2 separate regions of the Homo sapiens genome follow, and region 1 is linked to region 2. Evidence: fine-mapped expression QTL. A gene starts in region 2. The other region holds a variant in brackets. All regions are shown on one strand. Distances are from middle to middle. Region 1 overlaps UNKL (unk like zinc finger). Region 2 holds the start of UNKL-AS1 (UNKL antisense RNA 1).

What was found. PIP is the estimated chance that this variant, and not a neighbour inherited with it, causes the effect.
Region 1: its variant is fine-mapped to the expression of UNKL-AS1 in prefrontal cortex (ROSMAP, PIP 0.95).

Annotation. Positions count from the first base shown.
Region 1 is chr16:1,374,481-1,382,611 of GRCh38, reverse strand. The region is part of intron 10 of UNKL (unk like zinc finger); the gene reads left to right. Among named protein-coding and RNA genes, the nearest start is that of GNPTG, 27 kb to the right of the region's middle. RefSeq lists silencers at 2,840-2,979, 3,010-3,089, 3,130-3,179, 3,250-3,319 and an enhancer at 6,941-7,440. The variant G/T (reference allele first, on the strand shown) is at 3,230.
Region 2 is chr16:1,403,572-1,411,702 of GRCh38, reverse strand. It overlaps UNKL-AS1 (UNKL antisense RNA 1), which reads right to left and starts at 3,309. Exons shown (of 2, transcript NR_188570.1): 1 at 2,811-3,309. All of the region lies in intron 2 of UNKL (unk like zinc finger), which reads left to right. RefSeq lists silencers at 2,886-3,035, 3,306-3,375, 3,426-3,475, 3,354-3,531.

The sequences.
Region 1 (8,131 bases), 29 kb after region 2:
TCGCAGCCCTGGTGTTCCTATGTGGGCTCTGTTGTGCACCTGCCGGAGAACCCTCCAGAATCCAGGGCCAGTCCCTCCCTCAGGAGGCCATGGGGAGAGTGGGAATCCTGGATGGACCCAGCGCCCAGTGGTGGGGCTTGGTCGGGGCGGGGGCAGGGGCACAGGCGCAAGCAGTGTTTGCGTTTGTTTCGTCCTCACTGGCTGGGAGTATGGGGCTGCCCTGCCCAGGGAAGGGCTCCTCATTTCTGCCTTGCCATGGAGGGCTCACCTGGTTTCAGGACAGGACTCAAACTTCCGCCCTCCGGCCTGTTTTGGAAGTCATCTTCTCTCGGAGCCTCTATGGAGGAGGAAGCATGTGGTGTGGGATGTCTCCTGTTAGGGCTTCACCGTAAAGGGTAGGTTTTTAAAACTGTGAATACTCCATGGGTGGGAGTGCTGTGTGCTGTGTTAAGCTTTCTCTCAGGCAGAAACAAGCCCACATGTGTTTTCAGTTTGAAACTAGGGCGTACATGTTGTTCCTCTTGAACAGAGAGGTCTCATGAGTTGAATATGCTGGGGTGCCCACCCCCATCCCATTCCATCCCAGCCCAGGGACAGAGCACTTGGAGATCACCACAGGTGACGGCCTTCCCTGAGTTTGTTTTTGTTCATTTTGGGGTTTTATTTTTTAAGACAGGGTCTTGCCCTGTCACCCAGGCAGGAGTGCAGTGGTACAGTCAGCTCGCTGCAGCCTCCAACTCCTGTGCTCCAGAGATGCTTCTGCATCAGCCTCTCAAGTAGAGCTGAGACCACAGGCAGGCACCACCGGGCCCGGTGAGAACATGCTAGTTTTAATTTGAGATCACTATCATACATGGGTTGCATAATCCAGGGCCCTGGATCTTACTAAATCACACCCTCAAATTCACACATCCCCTTCAGAAACTCAGAGGTCAGGGATGAAGTCTACACAGTGGCTAAAGCTCCATGAGGGTCTGGCCTCTGAGCAGGTTCTTTTTTTTTCTTGCTCTGTTGTGCAGGCTGGAGTGCAATGGCACAATCTTGCCTCACTGCCACCTCTGCCTTCCGGGTTCAAGCGATTCTCCCTCCTCAGCCTCCGGAGTAGCTGGGATTACAGGTGTGTGCCATCATGCCCGGCTAATTTTTGTATTTTTAATAGAGACGGGGTTTTGCCATGTTGGCCAGGCTGGTCTCAAACTCCTGACCTCAGGTGATCCGCCCACCTCAGCCTCCCAAGATGCTGGGATTACAGGCGTGAGCCACCACACCCGGTCACTTATTTTTTTCTTTTAAACAAATAAGCACACATTCTTTTTAAATAAAGTTTCTCTTCCCCAACCTAAAAGTAGTAATGCTAGAATTTGAGCATAGCAGAAAAATATTTAGGAAAATTAAATCCCAAACAAGAGAGACCATCTTGGACTGTGCTCACTCGGGTGGAAAGTCGACCCAGGTGCCTGTGTGCTTGACAGAGGCGTGGCTGCATCCGCGTAGCTGACCTTCAGATGGACTGGAGTTAGCACATTTGTAGTCATTTTTCCAACCATTCTTTCGTATCTGAGGTACGTTTTTGACCTGTTTTAGTATGTCACTCGCGATCTTGAAGCACACTCTTTCATTTACTTAAATATTTCCTGAGCCGTGAGCAGTGGCTCACGCCTGTAATCCCAGCACTTTGGGAGGCCAGGGCGGGTGGATCACCTGAGGTCAGGAGTTCAAGACTAGCCTGACCAACATGGTGAAACCCCATCTCTACCAAAAATACAAAAATTAGCTGGGTGTGGTGGCTTGCTCCTGTAATCCCAGCTACTCAGGTGGTTGAGGCACGAGAATTGCTTGGACCGCAAAGGCGGAGGTTGTAGTGAGCTGAGATCGTGCCACTGCACTCCAGCCTGGGTGACAGAGCGAGACTTGTTCTCAAAAAAAAAAAAAAAAAAATCCTGAACCAGCTACTCAGAGGTGAAGAGATGGATTTTTTTTTTTTTTCAGGATCGACACTGCCTTAGTTAGAGGCAATGTATTGTTGCTGCTGCTGCGGCTGAAATTGTGAGCTTTGCCACCCAGTGCCAGCCTCACTTTTTTCCTCTGTCCATGTCTGAGACATCGCTGTAAAGTTACATCCCTGCACTAGCCACAGGCACTGGAGGCAGTGTCCTGCCCGCTGACCCCAGGGCACTCCTGCGCCCCAGGCTCAGGGACTCCCTGCCCATGGCTCCCGGGACTGTCTGGCCCCAGGTGTAGGCCCGCCTGGCTGCGTGTGTATTTTATTAGCTGTTGTAGAGGGTTTTGGACAAAGCTGGTGTGTAGACTGGGTCGTTTTTTCCTTGTGTTAATAGTACAGTTTCCTTCAGGTTGTAGGTGTACTGTGACTGGAGCACGGAATAGAAGAAATGAGCGGATTCTGTATTTAAGGGATTTTTAGTGGGATCATTTCAGACCCATCTGATAGGTTCCATTTTCCTTCATCTTACACTTCATAGGAACAGGTTTCAGATTAAGAGAGACCTGCGAGCTCCGTACCCCGCGTTTAGATGGGGCTGGGCAGGCACGCGGACTTGGGAGGGAGGAGGGTCCTGCAGGGCAGGCAGCGGCCCCAGCTCACGCCGCCCCGCCCCGCGAGCGCCCCTGTTGGGTCGACCGTGTTTCACCTGAGTCCGCCCGGAGCAGCTGCAGGTGCAGGTGGGCAGGGCAGGAGGAGCCGGGCAGCGGGGCAGCTCTGGGGCTTTCTGCCTGAAGACCTCTGGCCCCCGCTGCCCGCGCCCACTTGCCCGCCCAGCTCGTAGCCAGGAGCCGCGGGGACCGGGTGCGCCCGAGTCGGGGGGAAGGTTGGGGGAGGGCAGCGCGGGGGGCGTGGCCAGTGCGACGGGGGCGGGGCCGAGTCACGTTGCGGGGCGGGGCCAGCGCGGAGGGGGCGGGGCGCGGGCCGGGTTTGAATCCCCGGCGGCGGCGCGGGGCGGCCGCGGACCGTGAGTCAGCATTGGCGGCGGCCCCAGCGCGTGGCAGCCGTGCGCCGCCAAGGTGCGGGTCTCGTTACTCGGCGGTCAGGAGCGGGCCCTCCCTTAGGTGCGCCCCCCGCCAGGTGCGTCCCCCGCGTCACGGAGCCGGGTGTGACAGCCGCGGGGTGGGCCCGGGCTTCTCAGAGGCCCGGAGCGAGGCGAAGGCGTCGCCTTCTCGGAACCTGCCTCTGCCGGGCGCTCGCCGCTTCCCAGCGCGGGCTCGGGCCGCCTGC[G/T]TCCCCTAGCTAGGCGGGGTCGGTGCCCCGAGGGAGGGCAGGGGAGCGGGGCAGGAGAGCGGAGCGGAGCGGGGCAGGAGAGGGCAGGGGAACGGGGCGGGGGAGGGCCGACCCCTGCGTCCTGGCCTGGCCCGCCTGCACTCAGCCCGCGTGGTACGGGAATTTCCCTGGCGTCGGCGGCTCCCCCGCCCTGTCCTGAGTTCCGAGCAGTCTGTAGCTTGTCCTCGCGTGTCCCTGACCCCGGGGGACCGCGGCGCCTTGAATGTGCTGTGTCACGGCAGAGCCGGGCTGTGTCGCGGTGACTCAGCGGGGCCGGTGGTTTCCTAACGCCCGGGGCTGAGGCAGCCTGGCCTGACCCAGCTGTACTCGCTTAGGTGACCAGCCTCACCTAGATTTTGCCTCTGCACAAGGGTCAGCTCTTTCTTTGAGAATGTTTCAGAAGATCTGGGTCTAACCTTGAAACAGTGAGGTGAGGTGGGGGAGAAGCTGCGGGTGAGAAAGTGGGCCAGGACGGTGCAGCAGCCGTCTCCCCCCTTGATTTCTGGGAGTGAGCCCTAGATAGCACCCTAGGGGTGGTGGAGCCTCCAGGACCCTCTCCGGTGCTCTCTTTGGATGAGGGGCACTTGGCTTTGAAGCGGGGCCGGAGTCTCTCGGGGGCACCCACACGCTCCCTGAACGTCCCCTCTCCAGGCAGCTTCCCGGGCTTCAGCACAGGTGACTTGGCTGAGGTAGGTGGTGGCTGACGCCCTCTGAGTTGAGTGCGAGCCGTAGTTTGTCGGGTGAGCATTGAAGGCAGCTTAGCCCCTCCACATGCTGCGCACTCTGCAGCTGGTGGGTGAAGCTTCTGCCGACTTAGCACGGAGCCTGGTGGGATCACCCCACTCCAAGGGGAGAAAAGGCGCCTCCGTTCCTGTCCCCCAACTTCTTTGCGTCTTTGATTTTCATGAGGAGTTTCTGGATCTCTGCCAGGTGTGAGGGGCGGTGAGCTCTGAAGGGGCTGCCATATCCTGATCCTGGGACTTGGGTGCAGAGGGCAGGTCCAGGTTCCCGAGCCTGGCTGACCTGACTATGGGCAAACCGCTTGGCCCTGCCCGTCATCAAGCCCCCGTATGGGAGCATGAGGGGGCTGTGGGCAGGCCTGCGGGTTGGGGGGTCGGTGCCTGTCCTCAGTGAGTCTGTCCAGGGCCCTGACATGGTTCAGGCTGACACCTGCAAGGATGTAGTGGGGGGCATTCCATGCAGGGCTTGGAGGCCGAGCAGCTTTCTGGGGACTGGTGTGGCTGATCTTACTGAATGGAAGGCACAGCCAGGCTGAGCCTGCAGTGGCACAGCAGGTTAGGAGCCCGGCAAAGGACCCATTGGGAAGCGGTGACCGGCACGCGCAAGGGCACAAGCTTCCTCCTTTCTTGCAGGTCAGGATTCAGGATGCAATGAGGCTTTTCTTGGTAGGAAGGTTACTATTGCAATGCATGAAGGCAGGCTGGGCATGGGCCTCAGGGGGTGTGGGTTGAGCGAGCAGCCCATGAGGAAGGGATCCTGCAGTGCCAGCTTCCAGCAGCCCCTGCACACGTGGTGTCTGGGAAGGGCCTGCAGTGGGGCCATGGGAACAAGCAAGGGATCCTTTGCCAGGGAGGAGGAAGGGCTTTGGCCCCTGCTGGACATCTGGGCTCGGGGCTGCAGAGCCACTGTGTTGGGCGGGTCCAGGCCACAGGAGAGGCTGCCAGCCCTCAGGGAGGAGGGTGGGCCTGGGAGGGAAGCTGGTGCCTATGACAAGAGGCAGTTCAGGGCACAGGCGCAGGGCTGGAGGGAAGGGCCCGGGGCAGCGGTGGGCAGAGTGAGTGGTGAGGAGGCCCCAGAAAACAGCTGCAGGGGGAGTGGAGGCAGAGGGGGGGTCTCCTTTCTGAGGGAGGACTCAGGGAGGGAGGGCTGTGCACAGCAGGGGCCAGATCTGTTGATACAGAGTCCTGAGGGGCCTGGGGAGGACGGGCAGGACCAACAGGGGCATCTGCAGGTGGGCCCCCATGTCCTGGGTTGAATTGTGTCCCCTGAAAGTTGCATTTGAGGCTGGGCATGGTGGCTTGCACCTGTAATCCCAGCACTTTGGGAGATGAGGCAAGCAGATCACCTGAGGTGGGGAGTTCATGACCAGCCTGACCAACATAGAGAAAACCTGTCTCTACTAAAAATGCAAAATTAGCTGGGGGTGGTGGAGGGCACCTGTAGTCCCAGCTGCTCAGGAGGCTGAGGCAGGAGAATAGCTTGAACCTGGGAGGCGGAGGTTGCAGTGAGCTGAGATCGCGCCATTGCACTCCAGCCTGGGTGACAGAGCAAGACTCTATCTCGGTTGGGGGGGCTGGGTGTGGCGGGGGAAGATGCACCTGAACCCCAGGCGTCGCACCTAGGTACGTGGCGTTGCAGGGAAACACAGCAGGTCCTCTTATCCCAGGGTTCGCTGTCCACTGCCTCATTTGCTGGTGCGAGGTCTGGGTTCAGGACAGCAGTGTACAGCATTTGCGCAGGTAACTTTTATTACTGTGCGGTGCTGAAATCTATGTTACCAGTTAATCTTGTTAATCTCTTACTGGGCCTGACGTGCAAATGAGGACGTTCGTATAGGAAAAAGCTTGGTATATAGGGGTTCCGTGCTATCCGCAGCATCAGGCGTCCATGGGGGGGTCTTGGAATGTATCCCCCTGCTACAGATCGCAGGGTGCTACTGCAGGGTCCTCATAACCAGGTTAAAATGAGGCCGGTAGGGTGGGACCCTGAGCCAGTGACCAGTCTCCCTATAAGAAGAAACTTGGACAGACACTCGGAAGAGGTGGCCCCCAGAGCAGAGGCAGACACTGGAGCCACGCAGCTGCCAGCCATGAAGGAGGATGGACGCCAGGAGGAGGAGTGCACCCCAGCCCTGGAGGGAGGAGGAGTGTGCCAGCCCTGGAAAGAGGGAGGAGGAGCATCCCCAAGCCCTCAGAGGAGGGAGGAGGAGTGCCCCAGCCCTGGAGGGAGGAGGGAAGAGGAGCACCCCAGCCCTAGAGTGAGGGAGGAGGGAAGAGGAGTGCCCCAGCCCTGGAGGGAGGAGGGAGAGTGGAGGAGGAGCGTGCCCCAGCCCTGGAGAGAGGGAGGAGGAGCGCCCCAGCCCTGGAGGGAGGAGGGAGGAGCATGCCCCAGCCTTGGAGTGAGGGAGGAGGGAGGAGCATGCCCCAGCCTTGGACTGAGGGAGGAGGAGCGCCCCAGCCCTGGAGGGAGGAGGGAGGAGCGTGCCCCAGCCTTGGAGTGAGGGAGGAGGAGCGCCCCAGCCCTGGAGGGAGGAGGGAAGAGGCCCTGCCCGCCACAGATCTCACTTTCAGCCTTGGAGCCACCTGTCCAAGGCCGCTCAGTGCGTGGTCCTCTGCCACTGCCTGCAGTGTCTCGGCTCTGCTGCTCAGCACGACTTCAGTCAGGCTTTGAGGTCTTGCCCTCTTCAGCCATGGCCTGAGAACGTCAAGTGGATGACAGCGACCGGGAGGGCTGGCCCACCCTGCAGGCCAGGGTGGATGTCCGCTCAGGGACGCCACCGTCCTGTGAATGGGAAGGAGAGGAGTGAATGGCTCTGGGTGCGGCTGGCCCAAGGCCTGCCTTTGGCTCCGCCGATGAGCATCCTTGAGGGCTGAGGCATTTTCGGATGCTACTGTGGGTTCCTGGTCCCCAGGGGGTCTTGGCCTGGCTGCCCCGACCCCCAACCTGTTACTCTAGTTTCTGGATAAGACCTTCGAAAGTCCCTAAAAGCTTCATTGGAACGGTGTCTCCGTGGGAGTGGAGGCCACTCCCGCATGCGCCGTGTGCCGTCCCGGACGCCCCAGGGGTTCAGGTTCTCTGCCCTGGGCCCTGCTGCCTCTGTGACGGGATGGGGAAGGACAGTGTTGCCAGGTGGCGCCACAGCCCGGCCTCCACGCCCCGGAAATTCCCTCACGGCTGGCGTGTGGACGAGGGTTGAGTCTGGGTCGTGCTGTGCGGTGGAGTGGGGTGGGGGTGGCCTCTGCCTTGCGGCCTCTGGAGTCCACCGTCCACTCCCGAGCCAGGCTTCTCTCCCGCCTGCCGCTCTGGGTGGTGGAGCACGGTCTCCACACAGTGTGGCTGCTGAGCGCGGCCAGATTCGGGGTGAAGTTCAGAGGCCCGGACCTGCCAGCTGCGCCACGTCCACGCCAGCCTCTGCCTGTGCTCCGCTGGGGCCACCACCGCGGCACGAGGATACTCCGGCTGCCCTGGGGGGCTCGGGGGGTGTGACCGCCGAGCGCCAGGCCTCGGGCGAGGGGCCACCCGCCACCCTGTGGTTGCTCCCATGGTCCCCGTGGCGCTGACTGGTGCCAGCTGCTTCCAGGGAGGAGAAGCGGAGGCCTGGGCAGAGGGGTGAGGTGCAGGCCACGTGCCCCACAGCTGTGTTCCCGACAAATCTCATGTGCGGCTAGGGCAGCGTTCTTCTTCAGAAGTCACCCTCCTGCCTTTCCTGCTGATTATGCTGAAAATGTCTGGAAAGGCCCCAGCTGTCTTCCCCGGCAGAGTGGGGTTTTGTCCCTCTGCGGCCCCTTGGCTGCCGAGTCCTTGTTTCTCCAGCTGTTTTTTGGGATGCCCCCTGTGTGGTGAACCTGCTGTCACCCTGACATGGCCACCAAGTCCTGACGAGTCAGCCCTGCCTGGCTCAGCCAGCTCCCTGCTGGGTGGGGTGGGTTGTGGGGAGTGAGGCTGCAGGAGGTCTGCGAGGGCGGGACTCGATGTCGGGTAGGTGGGGCAGTGACCGCCTCTTTGCTTCTGCTGGGCCCCAGCTTGTCTGAACCGAGCACCAGGCAGGGGCTGGCCAGGCTGTGGAGGTTCCCGGCGCGCCGACCCCCACGGTCGGGTCTGACAGGTTTCCCCGGGGTGCGG
Region 2 (8,131 bases):
CAGGCGCGTGCCACCACGCCCAGCTAATTTTTGTATTTTTAGTAGAGACGGGATTTCTACATGTTGGTCAGGCTGGTCTTGAACTTCTGACCTCGTGATCTGCCCGCCTCGGCGTCCCAAAGTGCTGGGATTACAGGCATGAGCCACCGCGCCCGGCTGTTTTTGTTTTTTGAGACAGGGTCTTGCTCTGTGCCCTGGGCTGGAGTGCAGGGGCATGAACACGGCTCACTGCAACTTGAACCTCCAGGGCTCAAACCATCTTCCTGCCTCAGCCTCCTGAGCAGCTGGGACCACAGGAGTGCTCTATCACTCCTGGCTAATTTATTTTATTTTATTTATTATTTTGTTTTTGAGACCGAGTCTCACTCTGGTTGCCCAGGCTGGAGTGCAGTGGTACGATCTCAGCTCATTGCAGCCTCTACCTCCTGGGCTCAAGTGATTCTCCCACTTCAGCCTCTGGAGCTATAGACTCTCTACACCACGCCTGGCTAATTGTTTTTGTATTTTTAGTAGAGAAGGGGTTTTGCTACATTGTCCAGGCTGGTCTCAGTCTCAAACTCCTGGACCCAAGAGATCCTCCCACCGCAGCCTCCCAGAGTGCTAGGATTACAGGTGTGAGCCACCACACACCTCGGCTCATTTTTAATTTTTTTGTAGAGATGGAGTCTCGCTGTGTTACCCGGCCTCAAGCGATCTTCCCACCTTGGCCTCTCCAACGTGCAGGGATTATAGGTGCAAACCACCACACCCGGCCATAGTGTTGTTAAGGCAGGTTGATGCCTAAACTTGAAATAATGTAGTCAGCCCATTTTGGTTAGGATGGTGATGTACTTCAAGGCGGTTCTGAAAGTGCATAATTGAATTGGTTTTTAAGCCACTGTTTTCCGCAAATGGGGCTTTCAAAGGCAGGTATTTGTCTAGTTGATGTCTGGGCTCAGCCCCTGATTTCCCTTGGTCAAGCCCCTTATCTGCCCAGACCTGGGATCCTGAGTTGCAAGTAGGGCCACTGCTGCTTAACTCTGGTGTGGGGGTCCTGGAAGTGTGAAGACGAGCACCCAGCCTGTCTGACCCCACTCCAGTGTTGAATACAGGGCACTGATTGGCAGCACTCTATGTCACCCAGGCTGGAGTGCAGTGGCGTGATCTCGGCTCACCGCAACCTCTACCTCCCGGGTTCAAGCGATTCTCCTGCCTCAGCCTCCCAAGTAGCTGGGATTACAGGCATGTGCCACCACGCCCGGTTAATTTTGTATTTTTAGTAGAGATGGGGTTTCTCCATGTTGGTCAGGCTGGTCTCGAACTCCTGACCTCAGGTGATCCACCCGCCTCGGCCTCCCAAAGTGCTGGGATTACAGGCATGGGCCACCGTGCCTGGCCAGGTGATGCTTTTAATGCATAAAGATAAAGCATCTTTTTCTCTCTTTTTTTTTTTTTTCTGAGACAGGGTCTTGCTTTGTCACCCAGGCTGGAGTGCAGTGGTGCCATTACAGCCCACTGCAGCCTCGACCTCCCGGACTTAAGCAGTCCTCCCACCTTAGCCTCCCAAAGTGCTGGGATTACAGGTGTGCAGCCCTGCACCCGGCGAGAAAGCATCTTTTCATAACTGTTTCTTTTTTTGGAGATGGAGTCTCGCTCTCGCTTTATCTACCAGACTGGAGTGAAGTGGTGCGATCTGGGCTCCTGTATCCTCTGCCTCCTGGGTTCAAGCAATTATTGTACCTCAGCCTCCTGAGTAGCTGGGATTACAGGCGTGTGCCACCATGCCTGGCTAATTTTTGTGTTTTTAGTAGAGATGGGTTTCACCATGTTGGCCAGGCTGGTCTTGAACTCCTGACCTCAGGTGATCCGCTAGCCTTGGCCTCCAAAAGTGCTGGGATTACAGACATGAGCCACCGCGCCCGGCCTCATAAGTTTTTGTTGCGGAGTCTGGGTGTCTTGGTGTGGACTCAGCCTCACTGCTAGGCACAGGGTGGTATCCAGTTCTTACAGGGATGGACAGTGCTGTAGTAAGCGCCTGCCTCTAGGTGGTCACTTCAAGCTGTGCTCAAGTAGCAGTTCCATAACATCATTACAAAAATATTAGCCTGCTGTCTGAATGGCTTACAGTTTATAATTGAGGGTGGTAAGTGGGGCTAAGATGCCTGTTTGGTGTTTTGTTTTGGATACCTGGGTATATGCACACATAGTAAGGAAATTTCCTTATTTTATTTAAGATTTTGTTTGTAGCGTGTGAATGACTTGCTTCGACCGGCCCTTTAGGAAGTGTCTGACAGGCTGCCTCCCCTGAGATCTCTCCTCCATAATTATCCTTCATTCCACGGGAGTGGGACTTTCTCATCGCTGAACAAAGGGAATAGCCAGTTTGTCCTATTGAAGTACCCGTTCTGGTTCTCATTAAGGGTTGCCTCGGAATTTGTAAATAAAGGAACGTTCAGAATAAGGACAGGGCCTTCCTTTTCTTTAGTTCATTGGTTTTTAAAATTTCTATTTTGGCTGGGCGCGGTGGCTCACGCCTGTAATCCCAGCACTTTGGGAGGCCGAGGCGGGCAGATCACGAGGTCGGGAGATCGAGACCATCCTACATGGTGAAACCCCGTCTCTACTAAAAATACAGAAAAATTAGCTGGGCATGGTGGCGGGCACCTGTAGTCCCAGCTACTTGGGAGGCTGAGGCAGGAGAATGGCGTGAACGTGGGAGGCGGAGGTTGCAGTGAGCCGAGATCGCGCCACTGCACTCCAGCCTTGGCGACAGAGCAAGACTCAAAAAAAAAAAAAAAGAAATTTCTATTTTGGGTGTTGATACTACCAACCTGTTATTTTACACATGAATGTGTATCAGAGAGCAGAGACCCTTAGCCCGTATCAGGCGTTGCTCTTGGTTGTGGCTGGAGGTGCTGGGGCTGAGCTGTGGGGCAGAGCAGGACTGGGACCCCAGGAGGGCCCCCCGCTGCTGGCGTCTCCTTTCCACGGCAGGCTGGCACCTCGCTCCACCCCTGCCTGCTCAGTTGCTGCCTCTGTCAGCCCCCCCTGGGGGCAGCCCCACCGGTACCAGCTCCTGCGGACGCCTCTGCCGTCACCCCTCCCTCCGTGGAGGGTGACCTCCTACAGCCCCTGCTGTCATCTCTTCTCTCTTCCTCATCCTATGGCTCCCCAGGTCACTTCTCGGCGTCCTCTATCCTCTGTGGGCACCCCCTCCGGTGCCTGCCCCCGTGGGTGCCCCCACTGTGCACCCTTTCCTAGGTGGGTGGCTGCCCCTTGTTGCACCCCACGCCGTGCCGGTCCTGTGGGCATCAGCGTGATCTCGGCCCCGCCCCGCCCCGCTCGGGAAAGGCCTTTTGTTCCGCGCGACACGCCCCTCCGCTGCGCGCCCGCGATTGGCTGTCCCGGGTCACGTGTGAAGCCCCGCCCCCGTGGGAACCGTCCTGGTCGTTGGGGGGGGGGGCAGCTCCCATGTGGGCGTGGCCTTGAGGCCCCGGGGGTGTAGCTGAGGGGCAGGCGCTTGCTTTTCTCTTTAAACAGATTGCGGTAAAGAAATAGAAAAGGCGCCCCGCGGGACCCCGGGCCTCTCCAGGGTCCATCTTTTTTTTGTTTTTCTTTTGAGCCAGGGTCTGGCTCTGTCTCCCAGGCTGGAGTGCCGTGGCTCGATCTTGGCTCACTGCAACCTCTGCCTCCTGGACTCAGCTGATCCTCGTGCCTCAGCCTCCGGAGTACCCAAGCGATCCATATGCCTAGGCTTCCCAGAGTCCTGAGATTACAGGCCTGAGGCACCATGCCCAGCCTCTAGGCCCATTTTCATTGGGAAAAAAAAATACACGTGGCCTGCAGCTGTGTAGCCACAGAACGAGTGGCCATCTGCCAGCCCACCCCTGTCCAGAAGAGCGCTCCTGCACTGTGGCCCTGCAGCCACCCTGGGTCTCGTTCTCAGAAAAAACAGGCTTGCCCCATTCCTGTGGTGCCACTTTTCCAGATTGACACACAGACACAGGTTTGTCCTTTTTTTTTTTTTTTTGACAGGGCCTCACTCTGTCGCCCAGGCTGGAGTGCAGTGGTGTGATCTTGGCTCAGTGCAACCTCAACCTCCTGAGCTCAAGTGATCCTCCCACCTCAGCCTCCAAAGTAGCTGGGACCATAGGCGCACACCACCACGCCCAGCTGAATTTTTGTATTTTTTGTAGGGGTGGGGTCTTGCTGGTTTCGAACTCCTGGGCTCAAGTAATCCACCCACCTCTCCTCCCAAAGTGCTGGGATTACAGGAATGAGCCACTGCGCCCGGCCTCTGTCTTCTTTCCAGAGCTCTGTTTGGCGGTGTCACCTGACAGACCTGACACTTCCCGCTTGCCCTGTGCGCCTCCCCAGGCCTCTGTCGTCCGGCAGGTGCAGAACTCCTGTCTGGATGGGTCCGGGGTGTGCCTAGCTGGGTCTCCACTGTGCATTCTGTGAGTAACTGGTGGGAGGAGAAACTTTTCCAAGTATCCATTTCTAAGATTAACTGTTGCTGCTTGTATCTGGCGGGTCTGGAGTCTGATCTTTTTTTTTTCTTTCTTTCTTTTTTTTGAGATCGAGTCTCCCTCTGTCACCCAGGCTGGAGTGCAGTGACACGATCTCGGCTCACTGCAGCATCCACCTCCCGGGTTCAAGTGATTCTCCTGCCTCAACCTCCCGAGTAGCTGGGATTACAGGCGTGCGCCACCATGCCCAACTAATTTTTGTGTATGTGTGTATTTTTAGTAGAGATGGGGTTTCACCATGTTGGCCAGGCTGATCTCTTAACTCCTGACCTCAGGTGGTCCACCTGCCTCAGCCTCCCAAAGTTCTGGAATGACAGGCGTGAGCCACTGTGCCCGGCCAGGAGTCTGATCTTTCTATTAAAAGATCCTCTTGCAATATTTAATTTTAAAATGTTGAATGCCTTAGGACCTAAGGCGTAGGTGAAAGTTCCACTCACTTCAGGGTGTGTAGAATTTGCTGTTTAAACTGATCTCATGATGAGCTTGGGCTTTGGGAGCAAGAGGAAAGCCCACGGCCGGCCTGGGACGTGCGAGCAGTCTTTAAAACTCAGAGGCATCCGGGTGCAGTGGCTCATACCTGCAGTCCAAATACTTCAGGAGGCCTAGGCAAGTGGATCGCTTGAGCCCAGGAGTTTGGGACCAGCCTGGGAAACAGCAAGATTCTGTCTCTACAAAAAAATTAGGCCGGGCGCGGTGGCTCACGCCTGTAATCCCAGCACTTTGGGATGCCAAGGCAGGCGGATCACCTGATGTCAGGAGTTCAAGACCAGCCTGGTCAACATGGTGAAACCCTGTCTCTACTAAATATACAAAAATTAGCCAGGCATGGTGGCAGGTGCCTGTAATCCCAGTTACTCGGGAGGCTGAGGCAGGAGAATCGCTTAAACGCAGGAGGCAGAGGTTGCAGTGAGCTGAGATTGTGCCACTGCACTCCGGCCTGGGCAACAGTGAGACTCTGTCTCAAAAAAAAAAAAAATTAGCAATATAGCCCGGCATGGGAGTACGCCTGTTCCTCCCATCACCCCCAGCTGTTTCAGTGCTGTGCTCTGGGCCCCCCACCTATGCCTGCGTCCTTAAGCTGGAAGGGAGTCGTGTACACTGCCTGTCTCCTAAGCCCGGTGGTTCTCGCACGTTCCCTGGGAACCAGCCGGCAGTGCAGATCCACGGGCCTCGTCCACACCAGCTGGGGGGACCACATGGGCCACGGGCCTCCTAGGTGATTTTGATGCATGTGGCTCGCAGTCTCGAGAATGTGTTAAGGGGGTCTGGTGGACCCTCCTTGGGTTCAGGTGAGAGCTTCCTGAGGGAAGGGCAGCTTCTTGCACTCCAGGATCTGGCTGCCTCCTATCCTCTGGTCTCGGTGGGTCCAGGGCATTGGAGCGTGAGGCAGAGCGGTGCCCATGTGCTGGGTGTAATCACGTGGCTCTGCTCACTGATTGTCTCGGATGAGTTTGAGAACCGTGTTTGTCACCCGACCCCCGGGGGCTCGTGCGTCCCCTCCTTGGGCATCCGTGAGCAATGGCTCTGTGCTTTCTCTTAGGTATTCCCTCTCACCTCCTAGGTGTCCGTAAGAGTAAGGCATTTTCTTAAAACTTTTTCCAGTTTCTTTTTTTTTTTTGAGATGGAGTTTTGCCCTTGTCACCCAGCCTGGAGTACAGTGGCGCGATCTCGGTTCACTGCAACCCCCGCCTCCCGGGTTCAAGTAATTCCCTGCCTCAGCCTCCCGAGTAGCTGGGATTATAAGCGCCTGCTATCATGCCCGGCTAAATTTTGTATTTTTAGTAGACCAGCCAGGCTGGTCTTGAACTCTTGAGCTCGTGATCCACCCGCCTTGGCCTTCCAAAGTTCTGGGATCACAGGCGTGAGCCACTGTACCCAGCTGCCTGGCTGGCTGCCTGCCTTCCTTCCTTTCTCCCTCCCTCCCTCCCTGTCTTTCTTTCCTCTCCCTCCCTCCCTTCCTTCCTCGCCTCCTTTTTTTTTTTTTTTTTTTTTTTTTTTTTGAGACAGGGTCTTGCTCTGTTGCCCATGCTGAAGTGTGGTGGCACAATCACGACTCACTGCAGCCTTGGCCTTTTGGGCTTTAAGCGATCCTCCCTCCTCAGCCTCCCAAGTAGCTGGGACCACAGGTGTCCACCACCACGCCGGGCTAATTTTTAAATTTGTTGTAGAGATGGGGACTCACCATGTTGCCCAGGCTAGTCTTGAACCCCTAGCCTCAAGCAATCCTCCTGTCTCTGCCCCCCAAAGTGCTGGGATTACAGATGTCAGCCAGTGTGCCAGTCCTTCCTTCTAAGTCTGAAAAATACCCCACTGTGTGGCTGGAAGCCCGCGTTTACCCCATTGTGTGGATAGAAGCCCACGTTTACCCTGTCTTGTGGACGGAAGCCTGCGTGTACCCCGTCACGTGGATGGAAGCCCGCATTAACCATGTTGTGTGGATGGAAGCCCGCGCTTTCCTTATTGACTCCATTGGCGCCCACTTGGGTGGTTTCTGCCTCTTGGCTCTTGCGAATGACGCTGCTGTGAACATGGGTGTGCAGGTGTCTCCTGAAGACCCTGCCTCCAGGTTTTTTGGATGTGTACTTAGGAGCAGGATCGCTGGGTACCAAGGTAGCGTTGTAATTTGACTTTTGCTTGGCTGGCTCCTGGGGACCCTGAGAGCCAGCCAGGCACCCCTTCTTCTGCCTCTGTCGACCCTCAGCTTTCAGTGTCTGGCACATCACAGGTGCCCAGCGGAGCCTGGGTCGGCCTCTCTGAACTCTGTGTCTCTGTTTCCTGACCTTAGAGGATGGGGCTAGACCTGGTGTTGCTGAATCGCTCTTGGTCCCCAGCCATCCCTGGCTGGAGCTCCTAGTGCCCAGGCTGCAGCCCTGTGCACAGTGAGGTGGGCGGGGCCCTCACGGAGCTCCCCAGTTGGAGCTGGAGGTGAAGGTTTCAGTCCTTACATTTGGGGGCCTGCAGTGACGGCCCATGTCATCCTCTGCCTTGGCCCTTGGGCCACTCAGGGTGATTCTGTGACCAGCCAGGGCTCGACACCATTGATGACTCAGGGTCCTCTGTGCGTCCCTTTGCCTCCTTCTGGAGTGACCTACCTGGAGGCGCCCAGGAATGCCAGAGCGGTTTGTGTCGTCTCCTTGTCTCCGTCGCTGCTGCCTGCCTATGACTTGAGCCTTGGCAGCTGCTTCCCCTCTCCACTGCACCCCATCGTGCTTCAGGAGCTGCCTGTGACTCCCCAGGAGCATGGCTCTGGGCCTGCAGGTGGCCCATGGGATGGTGATGCTACCTCACCTGTGTTCCCCACCACGCCATCTGCCGCCTCTTCTGCCCATCCCCCTCGTGTCCCCCAAGCCGCGTCCAGGGCCCTGTGCTTGTTCCCTCCCCTACCTCCCTCCTGGGGTCCCTGAAAGCAGCAGGACGCTGGGCAGGAGGGGCCCCCACTTTGTGACTGCGACGGGTAAGGAAGGTGACGCAGCCTGCGTGCAGGGCATGAACTCTCATTCCCACACAGGTTTAAAGGTTTATTTGGAACATTAGGAAGGATGAGCTTTGTGGAAATTCAGCATTGTGTTTCCTGCTGTGTTTGGCTGACTGGGGGTTTGCGATGGTCTGTGTTTCTTACTGTG